Regions from separate parts of the Homo sapiens genome. Here region 1 is linked to region 2. A link means that fine-mapping ties the variant in region 2 to the expression of a gene that starts in the linked region. Tissue or cell type: whole blood. Region 2 holds a variant in brackets; the other region holds the start of a gene. All regions are shown on one strand. Distances are from middle to middle.

Region 1 (2,686 bases), 100 kb before region 2:
AGCATAATAGCAGCACCTGCCTCAGGGGGTTGTTGAATAGGTTCAATGAGCTAATATATAAGAAACACATGGTATATGCTATAAAGTGTTGTCTTCTTTTCCTTCTCCTCCTCCGCTCCCTGGGATTATTACCATAATGATACAATTATCATTTGTTCTTTCTGTAAAATGGAGTTTGATGTTGGAGCTGCTTCCTAGGCAGTCAGGCAGGGCAGTCACTGAGAATGAGGACGGCGTTTCTGACTCAGCTGTGGGCGGGCAGCTGCAGTGACACAGCTGAGTCTTGGCAAACACTTTTCATGTACGAAGCCTGACCCTGGAGTCTTGAGGCTGAACTTTTCACCAACAAACAGGAATGCATTCATGAATGTTACCTCTGGGTGCTGTCCTCTGGAAGCCATCTGCATAGCCTAACTCTGCCACCCTGGCTTGGACAATTATGGTGATTTCTCTGATGCCCCTGATACTACCACCTCAATCTGAATTTAGCAGCTCCCTTCACATATGGTTAGATTGCCTTTAAAGAGATTTTTTTTTTTTTTAGAGATGGGGTCTCACTATGTTGCCCAGGCTGGTCTTGAACTTGTGGGTGGGCTCAAGCAATCCTCCCACCTCAGCCTCCCAAAGTGCTGGGACCACAGGTGTGAGTCACTGCACCCGGCCTAGATGTCCTTTTTCAAACGTAAGCAATCATGCTCAGGTTTAGGATTATTCGTGCCTGGGTCCCCCTCCCATACTGAATTGCTATGGACAGCCAGCTAGTCTTCATCCTGCACCCCCCAGCCCCTGTGCAGCGTTAATGAGCCAGAAACGCTGATTCTGCTGCTGAGTTCCGTGGAACCCCCTGGGGCATTTTCCTGACTACCCCCAGTGTGGCCAATCCGTGTCCACTGAGGATGAATGTGACTCCAGGAAAATACATGAAGTAACTCTGTGCCAAGCTTGGTGAATGAATTGAGCCATGCCAATTCTGTGCTATAAATAAATTTACAAGACTGGTTTTCTTGCGTGGCTCATAAGCCAGGTCTAGCTGCCACTCCCCCAGAAGTCTTCCAAAAAGTATTTTGAGCAGGACCTTTAGACTGGGGTGTTGGAGTCCCAAGGCCAAGGCCGACCGCGCTGCTCTGGGCCCAGCGGGCGTTCCCACACGGGGCTGTAATGCCACGATTGGCCGCAGGAGGGGGGCCGTATTCCAGACCCCATTGCAGAAGCCTCCGCAACTGCTCCAAGAACTTTATTTTATACGGACTGGCGGCGAGAGCAGCTGCAGTTCGCATCTCAGGCAGTACCTAGAGGAGCTGCCGGTGCCTCCTCAGAACATCTCCTGATCGCTACCCAGGACCAGGCACCAAGGACAGGGAGTCCCAGGCGCACACCCCCCATTCTGGGTCCCCCAGGCCCAGACCCCCACTCTGCCACAGGTTGCATCTTGACCTGGTCCTCCTGCAGAAGTGGCCCCTGTGGTCCTGCTCTGAGACTCGTCCCTGGGCGCCCCTGCAGCCCCTTTCTATGACTCCATCTGGATTTGGCTGGCTGTGGGGACGCGGTCCGAGGGGCGGCCTGGCTCTCAGCGTGGTGGCAGCCAGCTCTCTGGCCACCATGGCAAATGCTGAGATCTGAGGGGACAAGGCTCTACAGCCTCAGCCAGGGGCACTCAGGTGAGTCTTGGTACTAATTTTGTCCTATCTCCTGGGCATGCTGTCTCAAAGACAGCTGGAGGAGACTGGAGTGAACTGGATGGAGAGGAGTACAGAGTTTGGGAAACTTCAGACCTAGAGCCTGGAGGTGCCTTCTCCAGGTGGGAAGGTCCCCGCCTGCTGGGCCCGCAGATATCTGCCGGGCCCTCATCCAACTGCCTGGGCTGGAGAGAATGTGAGCCTGCATTTGGGGTGCCAGAGGGAAGCTATTGCCTTGGTGGCTACTCCACCTGACTCATGTCACAGCTCAAGAGCCTACTCAGGGTGCAGATGGCTCAGGTGACAGCTCCTCTCCATGGCTTCGTGTGTGTGCATGTGTGTGTGTGCATGTGTGTGTGTGCATGTGTGTGTGTGTGCATGTGTGTGTGTGTGCATGTCTGTGCGTGTGCATGTGCCAGTGGTGGGATATATGTGGGGAGAGGTTATTTCTAAAATATCTGTCTCTGTCCAGCTTTGGGTTATGATTTAGCTTAACTAAGTACAGTTAGAGGAGGAAAACATTTAAAACCTCCTTAGTGATTCTCTCTTTGGAGAAGGGCCACACTCATGTGATTTTTTTCCTTGGTTTTGATGAGTTTAAAGTGAGGTAATCCAAAGAAAAGCCATAAACCCTGCAGAGTTAGATGCGGGTACCCAGAGAAACTGACTTGGTAGCAGCAAATGAGGCTCGTGCTACCCACTCAGAGGAGGAATTAATGGAGTCCTTCTGATCTCCAGAGAAGGATTGAAGAGCCAGGGTCCTGATATCAGCCCTAGAGTGCATTCGCGATTGCCTTTTACAAAGGGAACTTCAAACAGCTTTGTTTCTGAGACTGGCTAGGTAGGAGGGAGGCCTTGGGAACCTGGACACCCCCTTACCTGGCTGCCAGGCAGAGTCAGAAGATGCTGGGGGATGCTTTTTCTCATCAGACTGCCACCAGCTCCCCTGAGTGACCTTGTTCATAAAGTCATGCCACATGCATTATCTCACGGGAGGCTCACAGTGATCC
Region 2 (2,686 bases):
GGAGCGGAATCTTGAGCTATTAGAAACTATATTAGTAGGCTGGGCGCAGTGTCTCACGCCTGTAATCCCAGCACTTTGGGAGGCCGAAGCGGGCAGATCACGAGGTCAAGAGATCGAGACCATCCTGGCCAACATGGTGAGACCCTGTCTCTACTAAAAATACAAAAAGTAGCCGGGCATGGTGGTGCACACCCATAGTCCCAGCTACTCAGGAGGCTGAGGCAGGAGAATCACTTGAACTCTGGAGGTGAAGGTTGCAGTGAGCCGAGATTGTGCCACTGCACTCCAGCCTGGATGACAGAGCGAGACTCCTCCATTTAAAAAAAAAAACAAAAAAAAAACAAACCTATTGTAGTTCTGTTCACATCTATACAGACATGTCTTGTGTCTTTATAGAGGGAAGGTTGAGGTTCAGGAGAGCACCTGGCTACAGAGTCTTTGTCACTGATCCCCTCAACAACCCTGAGAGGCCCATGGGACAGTGAAGAAATGAGGAAGTCTGAAATGCCTCTCAGACTTGCGAGAGCACTTGTAGCTTGCCTGGACTGGCCCTGCCCATCCAGTCTCTGCCCTGGGCTCCCCTCACCCACCACGCTGCTTGCTTCAGACCCACACCTGCCGGGACAACCTGGAACTGCCTCGCAGCATTTTGCATCCAAAGAAGAGACAGGGTGAAATACCTCTGTGTCCCCAAGGCTAGATCGATACATGTTTAGACATCAATTAGCAAGGCGGGGATATAGAATGACCTTCAGAAGGGCAGCACAAATCGATGAAATCCAGGGTCAGGCCCCAAGTCACTGTGTGCACAGCGAGCTGTGGCCTCCGTGCTGGGGCAGCACCTTTCCCACCCCTCCCACCCTGAGCAGGTGGGATCTGTGGGTGAGAACAGCACCCATTCTGAATATGCAGGCACTGGAGGTTGAGACTGGAACCAGGGATCCGGAGGCATTCAGAAGGGGATTCCAATCATGCTTGCTCATAAAGTCACGCACACATCTACCCATTGCCCTCCACGCCATCTATTCAGCATTTAGGGCCCTCAGCCAGCCACGTGTCATGTTAAGTGTTAAGGGGCCATGGACAAACAAGACATGGTCTCTATTTCCAAGGGAAAATAGTATATGTGCTTGTAACCTTCACAGATGGAGAGCAGTGCCACCTGGTTCTAGGAGTGCCAGCCTGCCCCACCCTGGGCCCTGCTGGTTTAACCTCAAACTGTCTTCTCTCTGTATTATGGTTTGTTACTGAAAGTAGCCAGCATCAGAAAGAGAAGTGGTCTCAAAAGAGAAGGATCTGGCATCCCAGTAATGGCTGGTGACTTCTCTGTCAA[C/T]TTCAGTTTCCTCATTTCTAACTGAGGGTTTTGGAGCCCCTGAGTTCTCTGCCAGCTTTGACATTCTGTGGTCTTTCTTATCTATTTTAAACTCTTAGTTCATTTGAGTGAGTCCAGGGCAAAGACAATACTTATTTATCCTTGCATCCTTAGTGCCTAGCACAATCCTGGAATGTGGTAGTAATTCCATACCTGCAAATTGATGGATAAATAAATATGCAATTGAAAAAATAAACACAGACATTGATAAAATATACATAAAGAATTAATACAGATAATGCATTTTTAGTGCTGCATATCTGTGCACGGGAAGTAGAATCACCCCGGACTTCAACAAATATTATCACTTTCCTCAAAAGCCAAGGCTGGTTTATCCTTCCCCTGCGTGCAATCGTTGACATGTTCATTTTCAAATGCAAACTCAGCAATGGCTGTGCTTCACAAAGGCAACCCTGTCTTCTTGGTTCTCCCATAAGACTCAGGAGAAACCAAGCTGTTTCTATGAATTTTAGTTAGAAGCATTGCAGTTCCAGGGTTAAAGTAATTGTTTTTCATGTAACTGCTCCATCAAAAGGCATCTTGCATCAAAGTCGTGATGCAAATTGGTGGACCATGCTCAGGGATCTTCTGAAGAAAGGATTCTGGGAAAGAAAGGAGGGTGTAGATGGAGAACTGGCCCGAGGGCTAAGTCTCAAGTTCAGGCCCCAGCTCTTCTGCTAGCTACGGGATGACTTGGGTAAGGCACGTCACCTCTCTGGGCCTCTGCTCCCACACGTGTCATGCAAAGAGTGTGGACTGTGTCATCTTCAAGTCTCTACCAGCTGGCAAATGCTATGCTTCACCATCATTTGTGATTATTGGAAAAGCCCAAAGATGATGTCATAATTACCGAAAAATCACTCCAAGCACTAAGTAATGGGACATCTGTTGCCGACAACTAAGCTAATGGAAGTTGTTCCTAGTGATATCCTGAGAAAATGCTAAGATTCCTTGTCCAGACCCATGCCTTGATCTTCTCCATGACCTGGCCTCATCTGTGCCTCAGCTGTACCCTCTTTACTGGGGAACAAGCTCAAGCTTTGAGAGATTTGGGGCCTGTAGAAGGAGGGTGGCTGAGGACCATGGGGTTGGTCCCGGTGGGGCCTGGGTGAAGGGCAGGCTCAGTACAACAGGTTGAGGAATGGGGAGGCAGGTGCTGTGGTCTGGGGCTGCAGTGAGGCAGAGAGCTCCAAGCCGAGGCTGGAATTGACACTCCAGAAAAGTTGTGGGGTGAAACAATGAGCCCCTTGATCTGGGAGACAGCAAGGAGGCTACCCAGCCAGGAGCCAGTCTCCTGCCCTGTGTTCCCTCAAA

What was found. PIP is the estimated chance that this variant, and not a neighbour inherited with it, causes the effect.
Region 1: it holds the start of SCARA5, and the variant in region 2 is fine-mapped to the expression of SCARA5 in whole blood (TOPMed, PIP above 0.99). The same link has a PIP of 0.9 or more in blood mononuclear cells.

Annotation. Positions count from the first base shown.
Region 1 is chr8:27,991,229-27,993,914 of GRCh38, reverse strand. SCARA5 (scavenger receptor class A member 5) reads left to right here and starts at 1,242. Exons shown (of 9, transcript NM_173833.6): 1 at 1,242-1,658.
Region 2 is chr8:27,888,855-27,891,540 of GRCh38, reverse strand. The region is part of intron 7 of SCARA5 (scavenger receptor class A member 5); the gene reads left to right. Among named protein-coding and RNA genes, the nearest start is that of MIR4287, 4.1 kb to the right of the region's middle. The variant C/T (reference allele first, on the strand shown) is at 1,334.